Linked DNA regions of Homo sapiens: all the other regions are linked to region 2. Evidence: fine-mapped expression QTL. A gene starts in region 2. Each other region holds a variant in brackets. All regions are shown on one strand. Distances are between the middles of the regions.

Region 1 (8,111 bases), 84 kb before region 2:
GCAAGCAAGAGGAATAACATTAACATTAGCTTACTATGTACCGGGCACTGTTTTTTAGTGCTTTTCATATATCAATTCAATTAATCTTTACAATAACCCTAATGACACGATACTTATCCCCACTTTATTAGTGATCAAACTGAGGCACCAAGTCACACAGCTAGAAAAATGATGTGAAGTCAGACAGTCTGGCAGCAGAGCATGTCCGCTTAATTATATACTGTGCCAGCTCTTCGTGCAGAAAGGGAATGGCAGGGACTTAGAAGTTTTGATCTGATAATCAGGGAGGGCCCCATTGGTAAAGTGACATTGATTAAAACCTTGAAGAAGGTGAGGGGAGAAAGTCACAGGAATATCTGGGAAGAGATTCCAGGGAGAAACAACAGTAAGTGCAAAGGCCCCGAGGAGGGGGAGCTTCATGTAGTTGATGTTTGAGGTCAGTGGGCTGGAAGGTGGTGAGCCGGGGGGTTAGTAGGGAATGTGGTCCCAGAGGCACAGAAGGTGTGGTGGGAGTGGTGCGGTAGTGGGATCTGGGGCCTCACAAGCCATGGCAGCCAGGCTTTGACTTCAATTGAGCATGGAGATGGAAGGCCACTGGAGGGTTCTGAGCCAAGGAATGACATGATCTGATTTCTGTTTTATGAAGAATCATTCCTGGCCGGGTGCAGTGGCTCACGCCTGTAATCCCAGCACTTTGGGAGGCCGAGGCAAGCGGATCACGAGGTCGGGAGATGGAAACCATCCTGGCTAACACAGTGAAATCCCATCTCTACTAAAAATACAAAAAAAATTAGCCGGCGTGGTGGCAGGCGCCTGTAGTCCCAGCTACTCGGGAGGCTGAGGCAGGAGAATGGTGTGAACCCGGGAGGCAGAGCTTGCAGTGGGCCGAGATCGCGCCACTGCACTCCAGCCTGGGCGACAGAGCGAGACTCCATCTCAAAAAAAAGAAAAAAAAAAAAGAAGAAGAATCATTTCTAAGAACACACTGCAGGTGTGGCAAAGATAAAAACAAGAACAGTCAAAAAATGACTACAACAATTCAGATGAGAGGTTCTGTTGGTGGCTCGGGTCAGGGTGTGAGCAGTAGAGATGGTGATTGGACACTAGCTATGTACGTATGTGTGAATACACATATAGTAAATATGTATATATACATACATAAAATGCATATTGCTATATATATATTCTGAATATAAAATGTATATTACCATACATATTAGGATGCATTACACATATGAATTAAGTTATAATTTAGAGAGTAAAATGCACAGCTCTTTGCTGCACAGTTTGATGCATTCTGACAAATGAACATACCCCTAACAAGATAGCAACGTTTCTATTGCCTTGTGTATATTTTTGTTATAAACGCTAACAGAACTTGATAGAGCATTTGGGAGAAAAGATGAACTCAAGACTATGGCCTAAGCCATAGGAGGATGGAGTGGCCATTTACTGAGGCAAGTAACTGCCCACTCTCAACTTCTGAGTATGACAGCATTTCCTTCATCCACCAAAGGAAGGAAACAGGAGGAACTATAAAAGTATCATCTAGGTGAGTCATTACCCTGCCATCCTTTACACTGAAATTTGATGAAATACAGCCAGCCCTCCATATCCATAGGTGCCCCATCAGTGGATTCAAACAACCATGAATAGAAAATATTTGAAAAAAAATTGCGTCTGTGACTAAACAGGTACAGACTTTTTCTTGTCATTATTCCCTAAACAATACGACAAAGATTTACATAGCATTTATATTGTATTAGGTGTTATAAGTAATCTAGTGAGGATATAAAGTATACAGGAGGAGATTCCAAGGTTTTAGGCAAATGCAATGCCATTTTATATCAGGGAATTGAGCATCTCTGGATTTTGGTATCTGTGGGAGGTCCTGGAACCAACCCCCCATGAATACCCAGTGACAACTGTGCCTGGATCTTATATATAAAAACTGAATGTCATGGCAGAATACTCAAGGAAGATTACCACATCATCAAGTACTCCTATAGCACTTGTTGTCTCTCCCCACACCCATTCTCTCTCAGCCTCTGTTACCAAGTACCATATGGAACCACGGGTTATCTCTAATAGATGTTATATTTGGCTAAGGAAAAAGTATGTCTCTGGCAAGCAGTCTTGCCTAACCAGGTCCTTGGAGTGTTGCCTGTACTAAATCAAGCTTTTTAAGGACTAAGGACCCATTCTTAAAATTTCTATACCAGATCTATGGCAATGAAAAGGGTGAAACTCAGTAAAATATCTTGAAAAGATTTATTCTGAGCCAAATATGAGTGACAAATAGCCCATGACACAGCCCTCAGGAGATCCTGAGAACATGTGCCCAAGGTGGTCAGGCTACAACTTGCTTTTATAAATTTTAGGGAAACATAAGGCATCAATCAATACATATAAGATCTACATTGGTTCAGTCCAGAAAGGGAGCACAACTAGGGTGGTTAGTTCCAGATCATAGGTAGATTCAGTGAATTTCTGATTGGTAATGGGTTAAAAAAGTTGTTATTATCTAAAGACTTAGAATCAATAAAAAGGAATGTCTGGGTTAAGATGAGAGGTTGTGGAGACCAAGGTTTTATCATGCAGATGAAGCCTCCAGGTAGGAAGCTTCAGAGAATAGACTGTCAATGTTTCTTATCAGACTTTAAAAGATTATTCTATCAGTAATTCCAAAAAGGAGGAGGGAATAATGAGTAATGTTGGGCTCCCCCTTCCCATCATGGCCTAAACTAGTTTTTCGGGTTAACTTTGGAATGCCCTTGGCCGAGAGGAGGGGTCCATTCAGGTGGTTGGAATTTTATTTTTGGTTTACACTTACCATGGTGATCATGAAATAAATAATAACTATTTGTATCCATCAAAACAAAACTATTCCTTTATCACCACCAAACATGCTTTGCAGTACTGCAGAGGAAAGAATAGAATATTAATGGACTTGTTAGACTCTGACTCTTTCATGTCTTAGAGTATCAACTTAGATTTTGTTTTCATTTCAATAAAAGTTCTGACAACCCATAACTTTAAGAAGAGAGGGAATGAGGGAGGCAGAGAAGCAGAAGAGAGGAAATGTGTTGAACTGTCTTGACAGGAACTTGAAAACTTGCTTTTACCACAGCTACATGTTGAGTGACATGGGCAGGGCTACCAAAAGACCAATATAGTCAGGATTTTCCACATTTTACTGTCTCATGACTAGTGCTCCAAAGTGACATGAATAAATTCATACATTTACTCATATACATAATTATATATATATATGTATAGTCAGCCCTCCATATCCACAGATTTCATATCCATGAATTTAACCAACCACAAATTTAAAATATTCAAAGAAAAACAAATACAAATTTTAAAATACAGTATAGCAACTATTTACATAGCATGTGCATTGTGGTAGGTATTCTAAGTAATCTAGAGATGACTTAATGTATATAGTAGGATGTATGTAGGTTATATGCCAATACTACATCATTTTATATAAGGAACTTGAGCCTCTATTGATTTTGGGATCCTCAGGAGAGCCTAGAAAAAATCTTCCATGGATACCAAGGGACAACTGTACTTTATTCACAGAGTATTTCTCATTTACCTACCAAAGAGTATTTCTCATTTGCCTACTCTTTATTCAAAGAGTATTTCTCATTTACCTACCTACCTACCTACTTTACTCAAGGAGTATATCTCATTTACCTACCATTTACCCACTTACCATGTACCAGAAACTGATCTAGGAACTGAGGAGCTTCCGTTTGATTGACCATCTCCAATTCTGTATTTGCTTCCAATTAAGTCCATCTCATGGACCTGGTGAAGGGATCCCACCTGCCAGAGACATACCTTTTCCCTAGCTAAGTACAGCATCTGCCTTATTTTTAAGTGGCACCTCGAAACTTGAGTATTCTAAGTGATCAGGGTATACATTCTACTTAATGGGGTGTTTATTTGAGCCTAAAAACAAGGCTGGGGAACAATATACTTTTCAAAGTTTTGCTATTTATGCCATCTGTATTGGATGTCTTTGAATTATCTTCATCTCAGGATGCTTCAATTCCTGCCCTCTATTAAAGAGTAATAGAGTATTAAAATTTATTTTTCCTTATGAAAAATAAGGAAGGCCCAAATGTGTAAGCAAAAAGTTAAAGAATTCTTGGGCTAGAAGGTTTTTTATTCTTTCCTTTTTAAAGTCTCATTCTGTCACACAGGCTGGATGGAGTGC[G/A]GTGGCCTAATCATGGCTCACTGTAGCCTCAACCTCCCGGGCTTAAGTGATCTTCCTGCCTCAGCTTCCCAAGTAGCTGGAATCACAGGTATGTACCACTACACTCGGCTAATATTTTTATTTTGGGTAGAGACAAGGTCTCCCTATGTTGCCCAGGCTGCTCTTGAACTTGTGGGCTCAAGTGATCCTCCCATCTCAGCCTCCCAAAGTGCTGCGATTACAGGCATGAGCCACCATGCATGGCCAAGGATGTCTTAATATAGTGATGAGAGGGGAAACTAACAGCTGCTAGGGACAAATATCTACTAAAACCATTTTACCAGGAGATAGGAAGAGAGATTAGTCCTAGAGTAGCCACCCTGACTATTCTGGACCTGGGGTGTGGAGTCCAAGGAGTAGTGCTTTATGGATGTGTGTGGGGAAGGCAAGGTCATTGTCTTCCCAAAGGAAGGAACTGGGAGCTATTTGATTGTGATCTACCCCAAGAAAGAGGAGGTAAAACTAAACACAAGAATAGTCCCTAGTGCTGGAGAGCTAGCTCACAGGACTGACGTCAAGGGCCAAAGAAATATTGCTGGGCCTGACACTTCAGCTCTGTGAATGAAATTTTTAAAACATCCTTACATCTAAGCTCTGATAGCATATCTACCCTGGAGAGAGTACTTTTGTCAATTCAGATATTGGAATTTATGTGTAATACCCAGGGTTTCTTATCTTCAGAGAAGTCAAATGCCAGAACCATCAGGTCACCAGATGGAAGATGGAAGGTCTGGGCTCCTCTCTTGGCTACCCAGCTCCTTGGGAGTTTCTGTTTTCCTCTAGGATTTTCTCCAACAGAAAGCCAGGCATGGCAATCAGGGAGAGTCTAACTGCAGTTTATGAAGAGGTTTTGGTCTTTGGCACTGAAATTATTCAGACCTAAAAGAGCCTCTCAAGCCACCTAATTTCTTCTAGAGATATGGGGTACCAAGCATTCCTCTGCTCAGATACAATCAATAGCTCATGCTATTCCACCCTGCTACAGGCTTAGAGAGGTATGGATGATGATGATGATGATGATGATGATGATTATGTGTATTATCTAACCCACCCTAAATTCTGTTTTCTGAAGGGATAAGCCGTTTTATTAACAGGTTACTGATATTTTGGAATATACTTGAGGAGAGACAAAATTTGACTCATTTAATAAAAAGGGAGACAATCTTCCATTCCACCTGATCTCTTAGGATAGGGGGAACAAAATATGGGTTGTATTTCAGGGCCCAGAAGCTAAGAGGGTACATACCAGTCACATTAGCACGTGACATGCTTCGGGAACAGGGAGTAGGGTGAGTTTTGAAGTACAGGTGGAGCTGGGCGCCATGGCTTACACCTGTAATCCCAGCACTTTTGGAGGCAGAGGCAGGAGGATCGCTTAAGCCCAGGAGTTCAAGACCAGCCAGGCAACATAGTGAGACCTTATCTCTATTAAAACAAACAAAAATTAGCTGGGTGTGGTGACACACATCTGTAGTCCCAGCTACTCAGGAGGCTGAGGTTGGAGGATCACTTGAGTCTGGGAGGTCGAGGCTGCAGTGAGCTGTGATTGCACCATTGCACTTCAGCCTGGGTGACAGAGTGAGACCCCGTCTCAAAACAAACAAACAAACAAACAAACAGACAAACAAAAAGCAATAAAGTACAGATGGAGCATACAAGTATGCCTGATGTCAGTGGGCTGCAGAGAGAGAGGCTTGGCAGATGCCTTGACCTCCCAGAAACTGGGAAAGGCCCAGAGTAGAAAAGGAAGATAGTATAAAAGGTGCTTCAAGAACCTGCACCTCTGATGGCATCCCTGGACAACATCAGAATGACCTGCTAGAAAAGCCAGCTGCAATTTCTTGGTATAAACATTCAATCCAAAGCACTGGAGAGCTGTGAATGTCAAAACTGCACAACTAAACGAGGCTAATGTGGAAAATGAGGGATATGCAAGAATGGCGTAACTAAAGCAAGATGTCAAGTGAAAACACACTACAGATCAACTAACTACTTTTAAAATCCTCAGAACTGGAATGTTAGACATGTTACAGGTCATGGACTTGAGGGGGAAAGAAGTGGTCCCCTTGTTCAAGGAGCTGCTGTCATATTTGCTTTCATTTACCTAATACTTTTTGGCCTAATGACTCATGAAACATGAGAGAGAGAGAGAGAGCAAGATAGAGTCAGAGAGTCAGAGAGCGAGAGAGAGCAAGCACAATGTTGACTGCAGAACTAATACCATGAGGTCTATTGGGTCTGGAAAAAAGGAATAAAATTCAACTACTTTATGGAAATAGGTTCAGTTTATATACAATTCCAAAATAAGCATAGCTAAAAAAACACAAAATAAATACAGCTTGATTTCTGAGGCTAATTTGTGTTGAGGTTCAACTATGGATGGTGTGATGGGTTTAATTGTGTCCTTCCAAAATTTATATGTTGAAATCCTAAGCCCCAGAACCTCAGAATGTGACCTTATTTGGATATAGGGTTTTTATACAAGCACTATATAGGCAACAATCTGCTGTCCACAATATATTCTTTTCAGTGACAACATTCAGCCAACTGCCTTTCATGCCCCAGTAATGAAATTCAATTAGATACAGCATATTTGGCAATTCCAGTATCATAACAAACATTTACAGACTGATTACTTGCTCCCAGATTCAAATTCTGTTCCTACTGAGAGATATGGCAATCACCTCCAGAGAGTGTCCATTAGAGTTTGAAATTACAAAGCAATTGTGCATGTGTGGTTGTTTTTCATACTTTCCTATATTCCCCGCCTCACCATTAGTAAAATTGAGGTACTTCCATAAACATAAAAAACAGAAAACTAACTGAACTCATATTCAACACAGAGTTAAAAACAAGAAACAAAACTGTCTCTAAGTCAATGACAAAAGTATAAGCAAAATCATAGCAATATTTATTCAGTGTTTGTTCAGGGAGAGGTTCATGCTAGGATCCTGGTAGAGACACACAGATATATGATATATACATCAAAGCAATCTAATGATTGATGAATAGTTTTATACGGCCTTTAAAAGTGATCAGTTTTAATTTGTATAGGATCATTCATACTCAGCAAGAATTAAGTCTCCTCCCATGTTTTCTGCTGCCAGCACTCAAATACTTCAAGCCATTTCCACAAGAGCAAACATGTCAGATGAAAAAACATTGTGCCTCTCCAACGAGGCCTTCCTCCACACAGTAAAACATCATGGTCTGGGCACTTTAAGTGCTCAGTGCCAAACTTAGATGCCAGCAGCTAGAGACACTCTAGGTTGTAAATCACACCTGGTCTTCAACTCTGAAAAATAGCTACAGAACTAGCATCATAGACAGAACCATGCTGGCTTGGAAAGGTAAATATACAATGTCATCCTAGCCAAATTTGCTTCCAAACTTGTTTTAATTTGGAAGCAAACTGACTGAGATCTCCAGAGGAGGTCACCATTCTGGCTGTGCAGGTCATGTCCTTCACAGAGTGTCTCACCCTGGGTGCACAGACGCTGAAATCCAATCCATGCAGCTTGGGGGCTGCATTCACCTGGAGGGGCACCATTTTCTAATTCGCCCAGGCTCTCCAAGGACAAGTAGTGGTTCTTTCCCAAGACCTTGTTTTCAAAAAGCAATAGACTGGGGCCATTTGTCAGTTTTAATCTTAATTAAAATGTCATCTGCAAGTGTCACATTCACCCTCTTCTCTATGGATACCCCTGGGATATTCATCTAGGATTATCTCCGTGAAGAGCAGTGGCTTTAAACACCTTCAGTTCAGGAAGTGAAACAGTCAGTGGGACCGGAGTGTAGAGAACAAAAGGGGAAATGGCTGCAAATGAGCCTGAAAATGTGG
Region 2 (8,111 bases):
AAATACAGGATGAAGGTGAGATTAGAGTGGGAAAGAATGAATGGGCAAATTTCACAGAGGTTCAATCCTGCCTTTTCCCTGGATCCCCACTCCCAGCTCCATTTAAGGTATTTTAGGTTTTATTTAAAAAGCTAGGGTAAGTTTTTTCCCTTCCTCCTTCTCTCCCTCCTGCCCTTCCTTCCTCTTCTAAATTTTAACAGACTTTTGTTTTATTAGATACAGGGTCTTGCTCTGTCACCCAGGCTGGAGTACAGTGGCATAATCATGGCTCGCTGCAAACTCAAACTCCTAGGCTCGAACAATTCTCCAGCCTCAGCCACCTGTGTATCTAGGACTACAGATGTGCCCCACCATGCCCAGCTAATTTTTTTTTCTGGTTGTGTGTGTGTGTGTGTGTATGTGTGTGTGTAAGAATGGGGATCTCACTATGTTGCCTGGGCTGATCTTGAACTCCTGGTCTCCAGAGATCCTCCTGCCTTGGTCTGCTAAAGTACTGGGATTACAGGTATGAGCCACTGCGCCTGGCCTAAACAGACTTTAAGCCTCTAATGATGCATATCTTGGATTTGGGAATCTTTCAGTTTCTGCATTTCCTTTCAATACATAGGAAAAATGAACTAATCTGCAAAGCTGCTAAGCTTGTTTGCTTCTCAGCTCTCCAATGGAACTCTGACATGAGCATGGAACCCCAGCCAATCATCCTCCCAAGCTGTCACAATACTGTACTTAGAAGCCAAGGTAATGAGGCCCTGTTCTGATTGCTGACACATTTGTCATCAACTGTCATGCATGCACAGGCAACTGCAGGCCTGGGGAACTGCGATGCAAAGGTATGGAGGAGAGAGAATAGGCTCAGTTCAGGAAATTGAAATTAATTCAATGTGGCCAGCATGTAGAGGTCTGATTTTAGTTGCAGCAAGAACCTAGGGAGGTGAGCAGGAGTTGCATCACAAAAAGCATTTATGTGTCATACTCAGGAAGGTGGACTTATATCTTGAATGCTTTTATAAGAAAACCTTTAAAATTATATGTATCTTTTACAAAATCATAATTTCTTATTTAAAAATGATACACTTCAATGTAGAACTTTTACACAGAAATGTGCAAAGGAAATCATTCTTAATTTAACCACCTAAAGATAACTATTTTAAACATTTTGGCATATATTTTTCAACCTTTTTTTCTATGTACATAACCAGGAATGCATACTACAAAGAAAACAAGGCAGGCACAGTGGTGTGAGCCTGTAGTAGTCCCAGTTAGTCTGGAGGCTGAGGTGGCAGGATTGCTTGAGTCTGGTGACAGACCAGGAGCACCGTCATCTCGGACAAACACCGCCACTTTAAGTTCCAGCTCCCTTTCTAGCCTCATGCATTTCAAGGAAATCACTTCTCTTCTAACTATAAGCAGCCAGAAAGAGCAGACAGTAAAACACAGATAAGACAGCTCAGGCACAAAGGGAGGTGGGGGGAAATTCTCTTGGGTAACTGCCAAACTTCACCCTCATACAATGGGCCCCAGTAAAACAGTGGGCCTTAGTAAGTACATTCCTTTCCCTTCAGGTGCACTAAGATAGGGAAGCTAAAAGCAGACTCGGGGGTATGCCTGCAGCTGCAAAAAGATGTATGGGAACAGACACACAACTCTCCCTCCCAGATAAGCACAACAGACACAGAAGCAGTCCAAGCCTCTGATAAACTCTCCCACCCTAAATCCTTAAAAACTCTTATTAGTCCGTAAGAGAGTGTGCCTCTAACCTAACTGGCCAGAAGCCCCTTTCAGGTTTGTTTTCTCTAAAATAAACTTGTCCTTGACTTCTAAGCCACCTTTCCTGTTTCTTTCTTCTTTAATTCTTACATCTGGGAGTTTAAGGCCAGCCTGGGTAACATAGTGAGATCTTGTCTCTTAAAAAAAAATTACAGGCCGGGTGTGGTGGCTCACGCCTGTAATCCCAGCACTTCAGGAGGCCGAGGTGGGCAGATCACAAGGTCAGGATTTCCAAACCAGCCTGGCCAACGTGGTGAAACCCCATCTCTACTAAAAAAAAATACAAAAATTAGCCGGGCATGGTGGTGTGTGCCTGTAATCCCAGCTACTTGGGAGGCGGAGGCAGGAGAATTGCTTGAACCCGGGAGGCAGAGGTTGCAGTGAGCCAAGATTGCACCACTGCACTCTAGCCTGGGGGACAGAACAAGACTCCATTTAAAAAAACAAACAAACAACAAAAGTATCCATTCCTCTGAGTCAATAAAAGATGTATGTTAAAAAAAAAAAAAAGCCACGTACTATATATACTTATTGCATCATAACTTGCCTTTTCATAAAGACTTCAATCAGAATATAAATGAAGGGCTGCACAGGATCCTCTTATAAAGCTCTATCATAGGTTATTTAACTCCTAATTGTTGGGCATTTAGGTTGTTTTAGATGTTTCTGCTACTCTAAATAATACTCTATGAATAGTTCTGTACACTATTTTTTTTTAAGAGATGGGGTCTCACTATGTTGCCCAGGCTGGAGGGCAGTGGCTATTCACAGGTGCAATCATACAGCACTGCCCTCTTGAACTCCTGGGCTCAAGTAATCCTCCTGCCTCAGCCCCCTGAGTATCTGGGACTACAGGCGCATACCACTTCCCCCAGCTTATACTAATTTTTATATGTGTATTTAATTATGTACTTAAATCTAAAAGTGGATTATACCAAATCTACAAAAATAAGATTTTTAAACATTTTTGATGCCGATTACTTTATTAAAGTGTATATTCCCAGTATCCCTACCTAAGAATGCCTCCTTCTTAGCTCTTTTATCCACACTGGATGTTTTATACTTTTAAAATGTTTACATCTTAGTTTGTTAATTTGATTTTTTTATTTGTTTACTAGTGAGATTGAACTTTTTTCATGTATTTACTGGTAATTTGTATTTCTTTTTTGGGGTGAAATTCCCCATTCATGTCCTTTGCTAATTTTTTTTTTTTGGTCAACTTGCCTTTTCATATTGTTTGTGTGTTTACTTTAATAAAATTTAAATATTTATGTAAAAAGCATTTACGTAGCCAAGTCTACCAATCTTTTCCTTTATGGTTGTTTCCTTTGCTGTTTTGCTTCTTAGAAAGCTCCTCCCATTTTGAGATCAATTTATTAAAAAAAAAAAAGAGCGCCCTCTTCTGCTAGCTCTTTTATGGTTTTATTACTTTGGGATTTTGTTTTCACAATTAGTGTGAGATAGAGTTCTGCTTCTCTCTGCCCATAGTGCAGCTAATCAGTTAAGAACACAATTTATTGAATAATCCATCCACTGATTCAGATGCTACCCTTATCATAATTGTCCCTTTCATCTTCCTTGGATTTCATCTACTGAGGGTTATAGGAATAGGGGCATGTGGGAGAGTGAATAAGCACTACAGAAATAGATAGTGCTACCAAAGGTGTGAAAATTTGGACCAGGCAGTGGGAAAGCAGAGAAAGAATTGTGCCTATGACAAAGATTATTTGCTTGGCCAAACTCTAGTACGGCTTCTGAATCTTCTGCTAGGTCCATCTGTGCACTTCTTTGTAAAAATCCAGTTTTAGCAAAGAACCCCCTTTCCTCCATATCTAATCAGTTTTCTCACCCTGCACCATCCCCCAGGTGATGTTATGTCTTCAGAAGTCCTGTTAGGTCAGTTTCACCAAATGCCCCTTACCTCTGATGCTTCCTCTTAGTAATTTTCCATCCACTGAACTCCATACTGCTGGTTGGCTATAAATTCCCTCTTGCCCACGCTGTATTCGGAGTTGAGCCCAGTCCCTCTTCCCCACTGCAAGACCCAGTTGCAGTGGTCCCTATGCCAATTGAGACAGTCCTCAATAGTCTTCGTTCGGTGCTTTAACAAGTATCATTGAATAATTTTGTCTTTAACACTTCTTCACATTATGGTCACAGCTATATATTGTTAGCTTAGTAGTGGACTAACTGAACATGTAATTTCCAAGCTATAAGTTGCTCATCAAAATATATAAGTGAAAAAAATTAAAACCAGGGAAGGAAAGCAAGACAATCCTCCCCAAATAACGTTAAGTCTATGCGTCTAATTCCACATCATCGATGAGCCATCTGTCACATGGACTACTGTCCCTCAAACAGCACTCAGGTATGAGACTTGAGACGAAGTTCAGACCAAGGCCGTGTCTTCGAGGATATTTCGCTTAGAGAAAACGAAACTACTTTTAAATGTAGTGCTTATGACTAGTGCGGTAACCACTACACAAACAGCATTCTCCTGGCATTTTTATGCTAACATAAGCCTCAGCAGCGAAGACAATTGCTACCGGGGGAAATAACCTTCAATTGTGTTTTTAGCAACTGATTCCTCTTTTTTGCTGTTGTAAAGGGCCGTTAAACACGGAAACAGGAGCCTGGCGACGTTAGTCCGCAACAGAAAGTTATTTTGTACTTTCACAGTGGGTTTGCCTACTTGGTGAGATAAAAGTGGGGCAAGACCGGGCCTCAAGCCAGGACTTCCTGGGGGCTCCCGGGAGCACCGCAGGCTGCGCGTTCCCCGCGCGCCGGCAGGAGGCGCGCGCTGCCTGGAAACGCCCCAGCGCCGCCCGCGCCCAGAGACCCGCCGCTGTGACGCAGCGAGAGCCCGGGAGGAGGCGCGGGAACGCGCGTTGGGGGTCAGGTGCCGGAAGAGGAAACCTCTCGCTGGGGCTAGGAGTTCGGCGGGGCGCGCGCCGGCGGCTGCGGAGCTGGCAGGTGCGAAGCGTCTGCACCTGGCGGGCGATGGCGCCCGATGCGGGCGCCCCGGGATAGCGTGGGCGAGGCTGCGGGGCCCCGGCGCGCACGCCCGCACCTCTCCCCAGCCCTGGCGTGGGCCCAGCCCGGCCCAGGCAGCAATGGGGTTCCTGCAGCTGCTGGTCGTAGCGGTGCTGGCATCCGAACACCGGGTGGCTGGTGCAGCCGAGGTCTTCGGGAATTCCAGCGAGGGTAAGGTCGGGGCGCCTGGCTTCTGCAACCCAAAGTTGCTTTTGCATTTCTTGCGAGGTCAAAATCCGCCAGGGGTCTGTCAGCCTAGCAGGGAGATGGTGCTGGGGGCGTTGGTACACGCTGGGTGGTGAGTCCAGAACCGGCACGAATGGTGTTTCCTGCAGCGGAAACACTCATGGCTAAGGAGGTCTTACTATTAACCTCCTCATTTAGCGGAGGAAATGGGAAGAGATAAATAATTCTCTTTTTTTAACACAGTATTATCTCCCTTAGGGAGCAGCCATGTTTGTGGCTTTAATTCAACTTACTAAAGCGCCTCTTTGCTGCCCAGTGGACTGTCTGAGCTTCTGGACAGCAAGACTTGGGGTGGAACTAGCGGCTTAATGACTGATGGCTCTCAAGCTGCATGGAATTTTTACACCCCCAAATCTAGAGGCTTTTCAAACTGGTTATGTTCTACAGAGTTTGAGAGGGAAAATGAACCCATAATGAGGCTTTATTTTTAAAGAGCCTTTACCATCTAATTTATTAATACCATCTGGAGACAGGAAAACATTCCATACTCACAATGAGAAATAAAGGACTTTCTGAATTACAGATACATAGACATACAGATAGAATGTGTATACCCTCAATTCTACAAGTTCAGCCACAAATGAAAAATAAACACAGAAACACAAAAGCTTGCCAGTCCAGGTATCAGAGTTGTTCTCCTTACTTGAGGGCAAGAAATTTCTAATCGATTTGACCTTAAAAAAGACAAATGGACAAAAACTGTGTTCTCTGTTGTCTCATATCCAACAGGAAATAGATCTCTATGAGATATTAATTCGTTTACAGAGATCACAAAATTCCCAATCATTGCAGCTACCAACAGGAAATAACTTGTCATCCATAAATGAACTGTAAAAAATAACAATTTAATAGAGAGTAAAACTAAAATGAGAAAAACAAGAATCAACGAAGTTCTATTGCCACTTCAAATTCACCTGTGGGAGCCAAGAAGCAACATGCCCGGGCTTGGCTCCCTATGAGTACACCATTTTTGATGATTTCAGGTGACTTTTTTTTTTTTTTTTTTTGACGGAGTCTCGCTCTGTCGCCTAGGCTGGAGTGCAGTGGCATGATCTTGGCTGACTGCAACCTCCGACACCCGGGTTCAAGCAATTCTCCTGCCTCAGCCTCCAGAGTAGCTGGGATTACAGGCGCCCGCCACCACACCCAGCTAGTTTTTGTATTTTTAGTACAGGCGGGGTTTCACCATGTTGTTCAGGCTGGTCTCGAACTCCTGACCTCGTGATCTGCCCGCCTTGGCCTCCCAGAGTGCTGGGATTACAGGCATGAGCCACCGCGCCCGGCCGATTTCAGGTAATTCTTGTTCATCTCAGTGAGAACTCAGAATGGGATGTTAGATTGTAAGTCTTGTGCTTGGTGAATGGGTTTGGGCAACAGCTCATGGTTTGTTAATATAAAATGTAAAAGGCACTAGTTGTGCCAGGCAGATCATCATGTGCTTTTCCATGAAACTAAGCACATTCTGTTTTGTTTTGAGGTTAATAGACTAGTTGCAGTTCTGAAACATAATATTTTCTGAATAATGTGATTGTGTTGCTATGCACTTATCTTTGAAAAGCCCTTGTGCAAACTGAATTCTAGGATCTTTGTATATAGGACTGAGGCCAAAGCTGAAAAGGGCAACTTTTTTTTTTGCAGAAAAACCTTGCTTATAATAGGGCACTAACATTCACTCTGTATAGTGTGTGCCAGGTGCTTTCCACGTGCAGTGTTATTTAATCCCCACCACCCTACAATGTAATGATCTTCCTCCCTTGTCAGAGGAACAAATGAACAGCTGCTAGGGTTACAGATAGGACTTGAACCCAGGTGAGTCTCCCTGCAAATTTCATAGTCCTTCCACTTCCGTAAAGCTGTCTTCCAATAAGAATATCTTACATGGCATGGTGCTTTGTACTTAATCCTTCTGTGAATCCTCATTCTTCAAAATAGCCTTATGATGGAGGTAGAAGAGATGCTATCTCTATTTTAACAGGTGAAGAATTTGAGATATTAGAGTTTTTAGTTGATCGAGGCCAGCCCCTGAGTCAGGAGAGCAGGCGTCCAGAACTTTTTCTTTCTACTTGGTGTTAGTATTTAATACCTAGAAATTTTTATACAAAAGTTAAAAAATATGAATAAATTGAGAAATTAATTTTTTTCAGACACTGCTTTTTGCCTCTTTGCTATGATTATAGCACTGATATTCCTCAATGTTATTCTTTTTGCCTTGCATTGGTATTGTCATTCTGTGCAGAAGAGGGACAATGTGGGGACTTAACTGCTGAGTGATAATAAAAGCTGATATTCTCCACATCTATCAGCTAAAAATCAGTATAGAAAGGTAGAAGGACATAGTTCAGGACTTGCATAATCCTCCTAGAAAATGGCTGGATTGATGTTTGATGATGATAATTCTGATAACCATACAAACTGAAGAAATTGAGCATCTGCTGTAATTTAGGAGGATTTACCCATCTTTGGCAGGATGAGCTAACTTGCATGACTTCTGTAGTGGCCTGAATGCTAAATAAATCTTGGAACGTGGCAGATGGAGTTCCTAGAATGTCTGAGGAGGGTGCTTTCTGTGACCAGTAGGCACATGAGATGGATCATACTTTTAAGCAGTTTTCCCTTCTCTTGGAGTCCCAGTTCACTGCTGCCTTTAACATCTTTCATTTGTTTAGATTCATATCCAGTAACTCCCGTGGAATTTCATAGTAATTGGACTTGAGCACAGCATCATTTGGGCCTTTCAGTCTTCTTGCTATTGATGATGCTTTACCAAGGTAGCAGGCTGTTCATGGTTAGTTGCAAGTGCTGTCTTTCTCTAAAAAGTGTGTGAAGCTAATATGTTCATTTTTGTGTTCCCTTTCAACCTTTAGGGCTATTGAACATTTGTAAGAAGATAACAATGAGAAATTGGGAGGGGCGGTTGACTGCTGACCAACTCAAGTAGCTGAACCATTTTTGTTTTTAATGTGAAGAGAATTATGAAGACTAGGCTATGATGGATTTCTCTTAGAATTTGGTTGTTGTGTTGAAACACAAACAGTAGAAGTAAATTTTAGTAAAATAGTAAAAAG
Region 3 (8,111 bases), 68 kb after region 2:
CATGAATAGGTGATATGCTTTTAGAATAATCCACTTCTCTGAAATGCTGCAAAGAAAAGAGGTTTCTCAGATATCCTTTTAAAAACAATGAATACAGGGCAGGTGCGGTGGCTCACGCCTGTAATCCCAGCACTTTGGGAGGCCGAGGCGGGTGGATCACGAGGTCAGGAGATCGAGACCATCCTGGCTAACACAGTGAAACTCCGTCTCTACTAAAAATACAAAAAAAAAATTAGCCGGGCGTAGTGGCATGCGCCTGTAGTCTCAGCTACGCAGGAGGCTGAGGCAGGAGAATAGCGTGAACCCGGGAGGCGGAGCTTGCAGTGAGCCGAGATTGTGCCACTGCACCTCCAGCCTGGGTGACAGAACGGGACTCTGTCTCAAAAAAAAAAAAAAAAAAAAAAAAAACAACGAATACATTAACTACTTGATGGCTTGATGGTAGCTGCCTAATATAACTGCTATCATAAAGGTAGAAACAATATTGTAGATACCATAGAAATACCTTAAAGTTCGTTACTATAAGCGGGATGCTTTGACTAAATGTCCTTATGCAAAAGCCTCATATGAAACTGTAAAATAAACCCATGAAGAAGTTAAAAGACTCCATGATAGATACACAAAATTTGGCCTGTCAAATTTCAAAAGAACCATTGTGACCATCAAGTTGTAAGATCCATGAAGATAAAAACTGACATAATCAGAATGGCTACTTGATAGTACCACATAACACCTCAAACAGGGCCAGGCACGGTGGCTCACTCCTGTAATCCCAGTACTTTGGGAGGCTGAGGCAGGTGGATCACCTGAGGTCAGGAGTTCGAGACCAGCCTGACCAATAATGATGAAACCTCATCTCTACTAAAAATACAAAAATTAGCTGGGTGTGGTGGCATGCGCCTGTAATCCCAGCTACTCGGGAAGCTGAGACAGGAGAATCGCTTGAACCCGGGAGGCAGAGGTTGCAGCGAGCCAAGATCGCATCATTGCACTCCAGCCTGGGCAACAAGAGCAAAACTCTGTCTCAAACAAAAAAAACCTCAAACAGATACTACTCCATGAAACATTTCATTTAAGTAGAAAAAAATGGCCACAATATTAAACACGAATGGGAAAACTTACCTTGGATAGCATAGGATACTGGTTAATTCATGCTTCATTTGTAAATAAATTAATCTGGAAAAACTGTAGGCCAGGTGTGGTGGTGCACACCTGTAATCCCAGCACTTTGGGAGGCTGAGGTGGGTGGATCACCTGAGGTCAGGAGTTCGCGACCAGCCTAACATGATGAAACCCCATCTCTACTAAATACAAAAAAATTAGCAGGGCGTGGTGGTGCAAGCCTGTAATCTGAGCTACTTGGGAGGCCAAGACAGGAGAATCGCTTGTACCTGGGAGGTGGAGGTTGCAGTGAGCTGAGATCGCGCCATTGCACTCTAGCCTGGGCAACAAAAGCGAAACTCCATCTCAAAATGAAAAAGAAAAACTGTAATGGTGAATCAACGACTAAAACCATTCCTGAACAACTTTCTGAACATCTCTAAGAAGATTTTATGGAGTTGCCTCTCTCCATGGTTTAGAAATATTTATTATTATTTTTTTAAGTTTAGTTATTTTTAGAGGCGAGGTCTTGCCATCACCCAGGCTGGAACTCCTGGACTCCAAAGACCCTCCACTTCAGTCTCCTGAGTAGCTGAGACTATATAGGTGCATGCCACCATGCCAGGCAATATTCTTAAATATTCTAGTATGTTTACGTTATGAATACCTTAGAAGAGTCCCCTACCGAAAAGACACAATATTCACAATGACTAAAATACTGTATTTTGTGTATTCTCCCAAGCGCATTCTAACTTGTCATCCAATAATATAAAAACATATTTAACTTCAATAGTTGAAACTTATACATTTCGATGATGTAACACTTTGCTTCCTTCTAAGAAACCTTGTCTTCATCATTCCCAGTCCTCAGGAAACCCCAGGCAGGAGTTTCCAACAAGATCTAACTCCAGACACGTTGTAGTCACATTTCCAAAAACTAAAGACAAAGAGAAAATCTTGAAAGCAGCCAGAGAAAAATGACATATTACTCATAGAGAACAATTTGAATGACTGTAGGCTTCCCAACAGAAATGAAGGCCAGTAAAAAGTAGAACAACACTTTCAAAATGCTGAAAGAACAGACCTATCAACCCAAAATTCTATATCCAGCAAAAATATGTTTCATATATGAAGGTGAAATAAAAGTCATTCTCAGCTGAAGAGAAAGAAGAACTTATTTCCAGTAGACTTATTATAAAGAATACTCTTCAGTTAGAAGCAAAGTGTTATCAGAAGGAAACTTAGAACATCAGGAACAAAGGAAGACCAACTGAAATTGTAAATATCTGGGTAATTATTTTCCTCTTAGTTCTTTTAAATGTCTAATGTTTAAAAACAAGAATTATAACATTTATCTAATGAGATTTTTAATTTATGCAGGCAAATATATAACTACAAGAAAAAGGGAGGAGGCTAAAAAGGCCTATACATTGATCAGATTTCTACATTTCACTTGAAGTTGTAAAAATATCAATTTTAAGTAGACTTAAAAATTTACATATATTGTAATTCCTAATAAATCCCTAAAATAACTGCACAGAGATAATAGTCAAAACTACAATAGATTAATTGAAATGAATTAAAAAGTGTTCAATAACCCAAAAGACAGAGAAAAGGCAAAACAAAGGAATATCAAAGGAACAAAAAGAAAACAAATGATAAGATGGCAGAACTAAATCCAAACATGTTAATAATTTCACTAAATATAAATGTCCTCGACATTTATATTTAGATAAGATTAAGACAGATGATCAGAATTTTAAAAGAGGACCCAACTATGCATTGTTTATATAAAATTCACTTTAAATATGATATGGGTAGGTTAAAAGTAAAAGGACAGGCCGGGCATAGTGGCTCACACCTGTAATCCCAGCACCTTAAGAGGCCAAAATCGGAGGATTGCTTGAGCCCAGGAATTCAAGACCAGCCTGGGCAACATGGCAAAACCCTGTCTCTACAAAAAATTTAAAAATTAGCTGGGTGTGGTGGCACATGCCTGTAGTCCCAGCTACTCGGAACGGTGAGGGCGCAGTCAACCCTGGCTGTGCCACTGCACTCCTGCCTGGGTGACAAAGTGTGACCCTGCCTCCAAAAAAAAAGTTAAAAGGATGGAAAAGAGGATATACTGTACAAATATTAGTCAAAAGAAAACCAGAGGGCTAATAAGAACATGAAAACATGCTCAACATAACTAGCCATCACTGAAATGCAATTCAAAACCACAATGAGATATACCTACTAGGATGGCTATAATAGAAAAGATAGTAAGTGTTGGCTAGGATATAAAGAATGTGAAATGGTATAGCCACTTTGGAAAAGTCTGACAGTTCTTCAAAAGGTTAAACATGTGATCCAACAATTCCACTCCTAGGTACATACCAGGAAAATGAAAGTATGTCAATGCAAAAAACTGTACATGAATGTTCACAGCAATATTATTCAACTGATAAATGAGTAAATATGATGTGTTCATACAGTGGAATATCTGGCAAAAAAAAAAAAGTAGGGGGGAATGATGCCCTGAAACAGGCTACAACATGGATGAAAACTGAAAAAATTATGCTCAGTGAAAGAAGTCAGTCACAAAGACAATGTATCACGCCATTTATATAGTGTCCAAAAGAGGCAAATCCACAGAGGCTGAAAGTAGATTAGTGGATGTCTAGGACTGAGGGATTAGGAAAAGGAAGGAGGAATGGGAAGTGACTGTTAATGAACATACGGTTTCTTTTTGCGCGGGAAAAATGTTCTAAAATCAATTTTGTTGATGGTTACACAACTCTGAATATACTGAAAACCCTAAAAGTGTACACTTTAAATAGGTGAATAGTATGGTATGTGAATTACATATCTCAATAAAGGTGTTATATTTAAGAAAAGAGCTAGAGTGGCTATATAATATCAGACAAGGTCAGGCGCAGTGGCCCACGCCCATATAATCCCAGCACTTTGGGAGGCCAAGGCTGGCAGATCATGAAGCCAGGGGTTCCAGAACAGCCTGGGAAACATGGCCAAACCCCACCTCTACTAAAAATACAAAAAATTAACCGGGCGTGGTGGTACACACCTGCAGTCGCAGCTAGCTGGGAGGTGGAGGTAGGAGGATCACCTAAGCCCAGGAGGTTGAGGCTGCAGTGAGCCACAATCACGCCACTAAACTTTAGCCTGGGCAACAAAGTGAGACTTGCCTCAAAAAATAAATAAATATCAGACAAAGTAAACTTCAGAGAAAAGAAAATTACCAGGGACAGAGGAACATTACATGATGATAAAATGCCCAATCACCAAGAAGACATAAGCATCCTAAATGTATATACAACTATAATTAAAGAGCTTCAAAATACAAATGCACTAACTCAAACAACTGAAGGGATATATAGGCATATCCACCCTTACTGCTGAAAAATTAAACATTCCTTTCTCAGTAACTGGCAGACTTTGTACACAAAAATCAGCAATATAGGCAAAATGAACAGCATCCACTAACTGGCTTGAATTGATATTTATGAAATGCTACAACCAACAACAGCAGAGTACACATTCTTTTTAAGTGCTCAAGATATTCATGAGGATAGATCACATCCTGGATCACAAAACAAACCTTAACAAATTTAAGAGAACTGTAATCATA[C/T]AAATTATGCTTTTTTTTTTTTTTTTTTGAGACGGAGTTTCACTCTTGTTGCCCAGGCTGGAGTGCGATGGCACATTCTCGGCTCACTGCAACCTCTGCCTCCTGGGTTCAAGCGGTTCTCCTGCCTCAGCCTCCCGAGTGGCTGGGATTACAGGCTCATGCCACCATGTCCGGCTAATTTTTGTATTTTTAGTAGAGATGCGGTTTCACCACGTTGGCCAGGCTGGTCCTGAACGCCTGACCTCAGGTGATCTGCCCGCCTAGGCCTCCCAAAGTGCTGGTATTACAGGCGTGAGCCACCACGCCTAGCCAGTACAAATTATGCTCTCTGATTATAATGAAATTAAACTAAAGTAAGTAATTAAGAGATAACAAGAAAAATCTCCAAACATCTGGAAGTTAAACAATGTACTTCTATATAATAAGTCAAAAAGGAAGTTTCTGGAAATTAGAAGATACTTTGATCTAAATAAACATGAAAATACAAAATATCAAAAATTTTGGCATGTATGTAAAACTCTACTTTGAAGCAAATTTATAGCATTAAATGTTTATATTAGAAAATTAGAAAGATCTCAAATCAATTATGTAAGCCTCAACCTTTAGGAACCTGGAGAAGAAGAGCAAAATAAACCTAAAGTAAATAGAAAGAAATAATAAAGAGTAGAAATCAACGAAATTGAGAACAAGAAAGCAACAGAGAAAACCTAATGAAATAAAAAGCCAGTCCTTGGAAAAAAATAAAAATTGAAAAACCTCCTGAAAAATTAACCAAGAAAAAAAGTCAGCAGACATAAATTACTAATGGAAAGAAGGGATATCAGGAAAGATGAGACATCACTACAGACCTCTAATTCCTTAAAAGGATAAGTGAACACAATAATAAATTCCATACACATGAATTGGATAATTTAAATGAAATGGACTAATTCCTCAAAAAACACAAACTACATAAAGTCACACAAGATGAAACAGACAACTATGAATAATCCTATTATAATTATTTTAAGAAACTGAATTTGTAATTAGAAATCTTCTGCAAAAAATCTCCAGACCTGGATGGCTTCAAGGACAAATTCTATCACACATTTAAAGAAGAAATAACACCAATTATTATACAATCTCTTAAAAAAATAATAGAAAAGGAAATACTTGTAATTTTAATCTCATAAACTGATGTCAGTATTACTGATACCAAAACCAAAGAGAATACAAGAAAACCACAGACTAATATCCTTCATTAACATAAATAAAAAATCCTTAAGGAAATATTAGTAACTCAAATTCAGCAACTCATAATGAGAGTAATATACCCTGACCAATGGGAGTTTATCCCAGATTCAAGGCTGTCTCCAATGTAATCCACTGAAGAAGAAAATCACTTATGCATACCAACTGGCATATTATTAAAAAATTCCGCATACTTTCATAATAAAAATTTTCTGCAAGCTAGAAGAGGATTTTTTTAAACTGAGAAAGGGCATTTTCAGAAAACTTACAGCAAACGTCATACTTCATAATGAATGACTGACTGCTTTCCCAATAAAATTAGGAACAAGGGAAGGATGTCTGCAGTCACCAGTCCTGTTCAATACATTGGTGTAATAAGGCTAGGAAGGGGGGAAAAACCATACAGGCTGGAAAAGAAGAAATAAAACGGCCCCTTTTCACAACCAACATTGTTGTCTATGTAGAAAACCCCAAAGAATCCAAAAAAGAACTCCTAAAACTACTACATGATTTTAGCAATGTCACAGGATACAAGCATAAGAATCAACTGTTTTTCTATATACTGGCAACAAACAAATGGAAACCAAAACTTTTTTTTTTAAAACACACATTTACAATAGCAAAACAAAACAAAACAACAACAACAAAAAAACACAAAAAACAAACCCTGAGATTCCTGGGCACAAATTAAAACATATGCAAAATTTGTTTGCTGATAACTACAAAATGCTAATGAAAGAAACTAAAGAGGATCTAAAAGAATGGAGAAACATACTGTGTTCATGGACTGGAAGACTCAACATAGTAGGGAAGTTTTCTTTTTCTTTTTTTTGAGACAGAGTCTTAGTCTGTCGCCCAGGCTGCTGGAGTGCAGCGGTACGATCTTGGCTCACTGGAACCTCCGCCTCCTGGGTTCAAGCGATTCTCTTGCCTCAGCCTCCAGAGTAGCTGAGATTACAAGCGTGCGCCACCACGCCCAGCTAATTTTTGTATTTTTAGTAGAGATGGGGTTTCGTCATGTTGGCCAGGATGGACTCGAACTCCTGACCTCAAGTGATCCTCCTGCCTTGACTTCCCAAAGTGCTGGGATTACAGGTGTGAGCCACTGCACCCAGCCGAAATGTCAAGTTTTCTGTAACTGTTGTACAAACAGTGCAATTTCCAGTCAAAGTCCCAGCAAGATTTTTTTAGAGAAATTGACAAGCTAATTCTAAAATTAGCTTGGAAATGCAAAGAAACTAGATAACAACAAAACAACTATGAAAACAAAAAAAGTTGAAGAAACTATTTGTTTTCAGTTTTTTTCACACTACCAAAGTTTAAGACTTACTATAAAGCTACTTCAATCAAGGTGGCATAGAGCTGATAGAAACAGAAAAGGTTTAGAGACAGGGCCATACAAAAATGGCCAATGGATTTTTGAAAAAGGTGCAAAGGCAAGTCAAAGGAGAAAGGTTGGCTTTTTTCAACAAATGGTGTTGGAAGAACTGGACATCTATATGCCAAAAGTTTAATCCCAACATAATTCCTACACTTAATACAAAAATTAACTCAAAATGGACCATAAGTCTAAATATAAAATTAAAAACAATAACACTTTCAGGAAAAAAATAAGAGAAAATCTTTGTGACCTGGGGTTAGGCAAAGGTTTTTGTAAACATGATACTAAAAGCATGATTCATAAAAGAAAAATTTGATAAACTGGACCTCATCAAAATCACAAACTTTTGCTCTGGGAAAGACACTGTTTAGAGAGTTTGAAAAGACAAGCTACAGGCTGGGAGAAAATATTTCAAATCACTTATCCAACTAAGGACTTGTATCTAGAATACAAAAAAGTCTCTCAAAACAATAAGAAAATAACCCAAATAAAAATGAATAAAAGACTTTACTAGTGAACCAAAAAGATATGGACAAATAAGAAACATGAAAAGATGTTCAACATCATTAGCCATTAGAGAAATGCAATTAGAACCATCATGAAACCTGTCCTCTTAAAATGACTATCTATTTCTGCATCAATACCACATTGCCTCAAATGTAACAGCTGTAAAATAAACTCTCCCTATCTAATATGTATAAGTCACTGTTTTCTTCTTTAAAATTGCTTCACCTATTTGCCTTCTCTCTAACCTAATTCTATCCAAAT
Region 4 (8,111 bases), 140 kb before region 2:
ATTTTAAACAATTTTGCATTTATCAGCTTATATATTTTAATCATTTGTTCTCATTTTTATCGTACATTAGTTGTGGAGAAGTAGTGTAGTGTTGGTTTGTCTTATGTAATCTGACTTTTAAAACAACTCATTATACTAAATTTGAGAACTGAGGTAGATATTTTACAGATAAAATAATTTTTAATTATGTTTTTTGAATCTAGCAAGTAACAGAAATAAAAAGTTTTAAGGGATTATTTGTGAGGCAAGATAGATAACTACTTAGATTGGATAAATTTTCCAGGAGCCAGAGAGAAAAGTTATATATAATATCACCTTACCATTACTGTTATTAGGGAGATTTTATTAGGTCACTTCTGATTTTTGCCCTTCTTCAAGTGTGACTTTATTTATCCTCAAACGGACTTGTTGGTTTCTTCCAATCTCATCTCAGGCTTAAGCAAAATATTTGCGTGTTCCTCCTTTTTTTTCTTTTTTTAACTATGTTGAAGATTATCCTTCCTCTCTCATACTAAGAATCATAAACCTAAGAGCCAAAATACAGTACAACAGGAAACTAATAATTTGATATGTTTAAAATGTACAGATTTGAGGGATGTCGTCTGATTTTTGTTCCCCAACAGAACTGAAAAAAACCCATTTCTGCCACTTGTCGAATCAACTGTTAACCTTCTAACTCACACATTTTTCACGTATTAGAAATACCCGTTTTAACCTTGCTAAGTCTGTGCAATCATCTTCTCTAGCTCTCTTGCTTCTAAGAGGAATTCCCACTGGATTATTGAAAACTTTCTGCTTTGCTTTCCTTAAATCTGTTCTCAGATTTAGAAAAAAAGGTTCTGAAAAGAAGATGACCCAGTTTTCTAGAGTGAATAAAACTTTTCACACCACAGTGGAAATCTTACAGTATTTTTTTCAAAGTTGTAAGACGGTGAGGAAAGGGTATCTTTTTCTTCTTATTAGAAGTATTGAATAAAAGATATATAATATGTCAAAAATCTTACTTAGAAAATCTATGAACCAAAAATCTGTAAAGACAGCCCAGAAAACTACAAGGAGGTTAAAAAAAAGAAAAAAGTGAGGCAAAGCCTCTTTCTCTTGTAATCTAGCTTCTCTATGTATTGAAAGACTCAACGTGGCTTTCTATTTCAAATCTTACACTATGAAGACATTTGATTAACCAACGATATTAGGTTAATAAAATATTTTACTCAAGAAAACAGCCCTCTTATACCATATAAAAAGAGAAAAATATTCAAATAGAACTCAGAATAGAAAGTACTAAAACTCTTTTACTCTATGTAAGGAAATTACCAGATTTTTTTTTTCTGGAAGATTGGTAGTTTTTCATATTCTTTCTCATATGCAGTTCCCCTTAAATTTATTGCCCTTTTATCTTCTGCTAAATCCACAAGAAACATTTTAAAGATATTCTCTCACAGTACCTAAAAAGTTAACTAAGTTTTTTCTACTGTCTCCATAATCCATTCCAATTATTTACTTTTAAATTTTTAATTCATCCATTTATGTATTGATTCACAAATACTTATGGAGTGCCTACGATGTTTCAGTGACTGGGTTAGGCTCTAGGGATACCACGTATGGTGAGCATGAACAGGCACAGCTCACACACTTATGGAGCTGATAGGCAAATGAGGTACTCAGGTATGAATCAAATGATCACATTAGCGGAGGCAGAATTATGAACTGAGGTTCATGTTCTGAAAAAAAGAACAGTCTCAGAGAGTGGACCCTCACTTAGAGTAGGGGACAGGGAGAGCTTCCCTGGGCAAACAAAACAAGGCATCAAGAACCAAAATGAGGCTGAGCCTAAGATTTAATTTCCTTTCATAAAAACATTGCAGGAAGCCAACCACACTATTAATTCTAAAGGTGAGCAGAACAAAATTTCATCTGAACCCATTTTCTGACCAAAAGTGTTTCTTCTTTTCTCATAGAAAATGGTTAGCATATCTCATCGAAGCATTATACAGAGTACTTTTTTGTTACCTGGCTGTTTCCATGTATCTAAGTAAGAAAAAGAGTGAAAAAAATTCTCAGCATTTTTTCGCCATTTTGTTTCTCTGTCAAATAAATTATCTTTTTCAAATATTTTCTATATAAAAAGATGTTTCATTGATTCTTATTTGCAAATCTATTCCACAATATTGCTATTACAGATTCCAATTTATTCTTTTTCACCCTCTTTGGAAATCTGTAACTATATATCAAATTACTACTCACTTATGTTTCATTAAATGGAACAACTTAGATAATTTTTATTTCTACTTGTTGCTTTAGTACTATTTTAAAATCATTGTGAAGAAGATACTTTTAATTTATTTTTTGAGACAGGGTCTCACTCTGTCACCCATGCTGGAGTGCAGTGGTGTGATCTCAGCTCACTGCAGCCTCCACCTCCCAGGCTTAGGCGATCCTCCCACCTTAGCCTCCCGAGTAGCTGGGTCCACAGTCACACACCACCATAACCGGCTAATTTTTTGTATTTTTTGTAGAGATGGGATTTCACCATGTTGCCCAGGCTGGTCTTGAACTCCTAAGCTCAAGTGATCTGCCCGCCTTAGCCTCCCAAGGTGCTGGGATTATGGGTGTGAGCCACATGCCCAGCCAGAAAATACTTTTATATCAGACTTTCCCTAGAACTCCAAATATATTTGATCCCTTTTTACTTGGTTGCTTTTATCTGTTGCTTTTATTTATTTTGAAACAGGGTCTCACTGTCGCTCAGATTGGAGTGCAGTGGTGCAAATCATAGCTCACTGCAGCCTTGAACTTCTGGGCTCAAGCAATCCTCCTGACTCAGCCTTCTGAACACCTGGAATTACAGGTGTATGCCTCATGCCCAGATAATTTTTAAAATTTTTGTATGGATGGGGTCTCGTTTTGTCCCTAAGGCTGGTCTTGAACTCTTGGTCTCAAGCAATCCTCCAACCTTGGCCTCCCAAAGTGCTGAGATTATAGGCGTGAGCCACTGTGCCAAGCCTCTTTTTATTTTTTTAAAGTTTATTCTTATTACAAAGCAAATACATGTCCTATAGAGAAAATAAGATTTTCAATAGTAAAATACAATAAAAACTTACCAATCCTGAACCAGAGATAACCACCATTAATATTTTGTTGTATACCTACATATAACTATATTTTTATATAATTTACTGGGTTTTCTCAGGATTTTCATGAAGTAGTTGAGTAAGCAAAAATGACAGCACTTTTTTCTTGGTTATAATTAATGATCTATTTACGGATTTTTTTTTTTTTTTTTTGAGATGGAGCCTTGCTCTATCATCCCAGGCTGGAGTGCAATGGCATGATCTTGGCTCACCGCAACCTCCGCCTCCTGGGTTCAAGCAGTTCTCCTGCCTCAGCCTCCCGAGTAGCTGGAATTACAGGCACGCCACCATGCCCAGCTAATTTTTGTATTTTTAGTAGAGATGAGGTTTCGCCATGTTCACCAGGCTAGTCTTGAACTCCTGACCTCAAGTGATCTGCTGGCCTCGGCCTCCCAAAGTGCTGGGATTACAGGCATGAGCCACCGCCCCTGGCCTATTTCT[G/A]GATTATTATTTGATTCAAATTTTTGTCAAATATCAAATTCTGTAAACCCTGAGTAGCTATTGTGTGGCTATTACAAAAATGGCATGATTCTTTTCTAAAACTATCACATAAATCATATTGGTACTATGTTAAAAAAATAGAGGTTTGTCTTATTTCAGTTATTTTACTCTAATTTTTATCTTTATTTTAAATTCTACTGGCTTTTTCCCTTATCTCATAAATTTCATATTTTTGCTATCAACACAGCATTTCAGTCTGTGGAGATCATTAGGAATCTCATTTTAGCTAACCCTCCTATTTTTGTGTCATCAACAAACTTAAAAATAATCTCTTCAAAGCCTTCATATAGATCATTAGTGAAAATGTTGAACATTTTGTAGAATATGTTAAGGCTGCCTAAGGGACAAGGACCAAGAGCAAAGTTGCTTCCTAACACAACTCTAGTGAAGACAACGGAAGGAAAAATAAGAAAGAGGCCAGTGGAAGCAGTAAAGACTTATTATGGTTGCATAGTTGGAAGTCCAGAATATGAGAAAGGAGAGAACTAAACCTACACTGCATATAAAAAACGGCACCCGCGGTGCCAGTAGCAAGAGAATCGGTGGAAGAATGCAGAAACCAATTCAAACAAATCTGTATAAATATTTGATGGTACATAAGGGAGGGCTATATATGAAATTGCAAAAGGTTGCATGTAAGTTTGTCTGGAATATTACAATAAAAATACATGCTTTTCAGCCAGGCTCGGTAGCTCACGCATGCAATTCCAGAACTTTAGGATGTTGAGGCAGGTGGATGGCTTGAGCCCAGGAGCTTGAGACCAGCCTGGGCAACATAGTGAGACATCATCTCTACAAAAAATACAAAAATTAGCTGGGCATAGTGGTGCATGCCTGAGATCCCAGCTCCCGAATATAGGAGGCTGAGGTGGGAGGATGGCTTGAGTCCAGGAGGCCAAGGCTACAGTGAGCTATGATTGCACCACTGCACTCCAGCCTGGGTGACAAAGTGAGACCCTGGATCAAAAAAAAAAAAAAGATACATGCTCTTCAGAGCTATTTAGAAGATGGAAGGAAGACTATTAATGATCCTTGCATCAGTGCATATGCTAGCCTACATGACACCTCTGTGTGAATTTGAAAAAGATGCCTCTTCCTCCTGGCTGACATAGCCCCACACAAGGACTTAGCGCTTGACAAGGAGAGCACAGGTTGAACCACAGCCCTCACTCACGCCTTAGCCAGGTGCCCCCGTGCACTGATCAGTGAGGTTTGCTGGGTCTCTCCACACCCCATTTCAGCTTTGCTAGCTGGCTCTCTGTTAAGCTCTGATGATAGGGGGGCTAGAGGGAGACTGAAATGTGGGAAGAGGAAGGAGGGACACACTTCATCCTGTGAGCTTCCTGTTTGCTTGTGGTTCTTGCTACTGGCACCCTATTAACTCTGCTTCACCATAGCAGCAGTTGGATCCAGTTTTCAGTTTCCCTACCACCTGCAGAAATAACTGGACTGCACCCCACCTCCCCACCAAGAGACACCAGCACCAAACCCCTCTTCAGAGACAGATCCCAGCTCCAAGAGACACTGCCTCCAAACTCAGAGACAACACCACCAACTGAGCAGTACCTTTCTCCTCAGATGTCTGAGTTTCAGCTTCATGCCGCTGCTCCTCTAAGTTTCTACATTTTAAGAATTCCAGCCTCTTACTTTTGTTCCCTCAGACCTAGAGGCGATTAAGAGTTCCCTGCAGTTGCTACCTCTGTAACATCTTAGATTTTTCTTTTCACCTTTTTGGTTACCAGGTTGACAATTTTATATTTCATTGACAATTCTTTTTTTTTTTTTTTAAGACAGTCTCACTCTGTCACCCAGGCTGGAGTGCATGGAGTGCAGTGGCTCAATCTCAGCTCACTGCAACCTCCACCCTCCCCACCCTGGGTTCAAGTGTCTGGCCTGTTGACAATTCTTTATATTAAATTATATTTATTGGTTGGGCGCAGTGGCTCACGCCTGTAATCTCAACACTTTGGGAGGCTGAGGTGGGCCAATCACATGAGGTCAGGGGTTCCAGACCAGCCTGGCCAACATGGCAAAACCCCATCTCTACTAAAAATACAAAAATTAGCTGGGCATGGTGGTGGGCGCCTGTAGTACCAACTACTCTGGAGGCTGAGGCAGAAGAATTGCTTGAACCCAAGAGGCAGAGATTGTAGTCAGCCAAGATCACACCACTGCACTCCAGCCTGGGCCACAGAGTACATGAGACTCTGTCTCAATAAATAAATATAAAAAATAAAAATTATATGTATTCAGGTAACTCTGCATAGTTCCTGTCTCTTGACTGAACCCTGAGTACACAAAGGAGAAGACAAATTAGAGCAATAAATCATCATAATCTATATACATTATTTTTCTTCAGGCATTACTTGGACTGTTCTAACATCAAAACTGCTCGATAAGAGGAAACAACTTTCCATCAGACTCGAATTGGGGATTCTTGCCAGAATTAAGGCTGTCACATACTGAAGGGCTAGCTGGCTTAGTTGGACTCCTGGTAGGAGAATGATAAACCCAGCCTATATCTTTCCAAAAGGGATGTACTAATCAGAAATAGGTTATTCTGCAGTAAACACCAGTCCTCTGACTAGTGATGGCTTACAGCAATTAATGTTTCTCTCTCTTGGAGGTTTCATAACAACTGAGGATCCATTACACCTTTGTTCTATGGCTCTTCCCCAAATATCTTTTTCATTTCATTGGAGACCTAAGCTGAAGGTATTGCCCCTACCCTTGTCTCACAGCAGAGGGAAAGGAATAAGAGTGGAATCATGCAATGGCTCACAAGCCTTCTGCTTGGAGGTGGTGTAAGTCACCTCCTCTTGCATTCCCTTGGTTAAAGCAAACCATATAGCCAAACCTGCTATCAGTGGGGCATTTTGGGTTAAGAGTTAACAAAATCTTTTCTCTGCTGTGTATGAATTTTAGCTTTAGTTAACATTCTAGTTCTGTTCCCCTAGAACCAGATTAGAGTACTATGTTAACAGTATTACTCAGCAACATTGCTTATAATAAAAAGGATCTCTGATTGGAAATTGCATCTGGAGTGGGAGGAACTATAAATGCACCATAAATATCTGATGGAGATTGTAGCTTCTAGCATCCTTGAATGTGCTGACTGTTTTAATTGAGTATGTGTAGTGATGCCAGAAATGACACATCTGAAGTTTGTTACAGGTGATATTGGCTCCTGTAGGGAATGAGACCTTAATTCAGGGTGGTTCCTGCACTTGCCTCATATGCATCACACCTTCATGCATTTGAGTTGTCTCTGGGCAGCTGCATAATTTGGAGGGACACCTGACACCACCTGTAGTTAATTGTGGTTCCTGTCTCATGTTTTCGTTTTTCTTTTCTTTCTTTCTTTCTTCTTCTTTTTTTTTTTTTTTGTCTTGAGACAGTCTCACTCTGTCACCAAGGCTGGAGTGCAGTGGCACGATCTCGGCTCACTGCAATCTCCACCTCCCAGATTCAAACGATCTTCCCACCTCAGCCCCCGATAGCTGGAATTACAGGCACCTGCCACTATGCACAGCTGATTTTTGTATTTTTACAAAAATTCACAGTGTTGGTTAGGCTGGTCTCGAACTCCTAACCTCAAGTGAGCTGCCCTCCATGACCTCCCAAAGTGCTAGGATTACAGGTACGAGCCACCACGCCCAGCCCTGTCCCATGTTTCTCTGAGTGAATCTGATGCCAAAGAGGTCTATGGTAGTTTTGTGAGTTTGAATCTTGACCTGAACATAATAATAGGTTTGATGCCATTGTGGGCACTGTAGGCAGAAATTCACATTCTGCCACAAGACATCAATATAAGAATGGATGTTCTTCTAACTGAAAGATGAACAGATAATTAGAAACAATAACAGTAGGAGGATTCTCCTAGAGGACCTAGGTACTTTTCATTAGACAACAGATTCATAGAAAACTACTGATCAATAGAGGAAAAATGGAAAGAGAAACACGTTTGTGGCTCAGAGAAACCTCACTTAGAAACCTGGCTCTGCTGCTTCCTGCCTGTAACCTGGGTGAGTTGCTTTACCCCTCTGAGCATAAGAATTCTCATCTATAAATTTACTATTTTTTTCAGGCATTTTTACTAAAAGAAAAAACTCAATTGGAACTCAGTTGAGAAAAAAAAAAAAAATCTAAAAGGGCACGAATGGTCCTGCAATCTAATGGACTTGAGTCTCCAGGACTCTTTCTTTGCCCCATCTGCAATTTTTTCAGTTTCTTGGCTTCATTCAATCCTACTCCAGGGACAGGATTTCTCTGTAGGACAGAGATGCTGCCAGCTCTGGCTTACATTCTTACCATGGGTATATATGACCCTTTCAAATTAATGATTTCATTTTAAAATGTAACTAAATGCTCTCTTACTATCTTACCTGTCTTCACTGAATTGCACTTCCTTATTTTAAAGGGTGATTGTTCTGTCATTTCCAGATTGAAGACAATCCTTGCTAGAGAAGTTGGGAAGAA

Evidence for each region. PIP is the estimated chance that this variant, and not a neighbour inherited with it, causes the effect.
Region 1: its variant is fine-mapped to the expression of TM7SF3 in atrial appendage (GTEx, PIP above 0.99).
Region 3: its variant is fine-mapped to the expression of TM7SF3 in whole blood (TOPMed, PIP above 0.99).
Region 4: its variant is fine-mapped to the expression of TM7SF3 in atrial appendage (GTEx, PIP above 0.99).

The regions. Positions count from the first base shown.
Region 1 is chr12:27,094,906-27,103,016 of GRCh38, reverse strand. It overlaps the pseudogene LOC124902904. Among named protein-coding and RNA genes, the nearest start is that of C12orf71, 16 kb to the right of the region's middle. The variant G/A (reference allele first, on the strand shown) is at 4,232.
Region 2 is chr12:27,010,938-27,019,048 of GRCh38, reverse strand. TM7SF3 (transmembrane 7 superfamily member 3) reads left to right here and starts at 4,665. Exons shown (of 12, transcript NM_016551.3): 1 at 4,665-4,971. The coding sequence starts at 4,881. RefSeq lists a silencer at 4,473-4,972.
Region 3 is chr12:26,942,511-26,950,621 of GRCh38, reverse strand. All of the region lies in intron 1 of FGFR1OP2 (FGFR1 oncogene partner 2), which reads right to left. Among named protein-coding and RNA genes, the nearest start is that of FGFR1OP2, 8.1 kb to the right of the region's middle. The variant C/T (reference allele first, on the strand shown) is at 4,733.
Region 4 is chr12:27,148,511-27,156,621 of GRCh38, reverse strand. It overlaps the pseudogene LOC124902904. Among named protein-coding and RNA genes, the nearest start is that of C12orf71, 70 kb to the right of the region's middle. The variant G/A (reference allele first, on the strand shown) is at 3,573.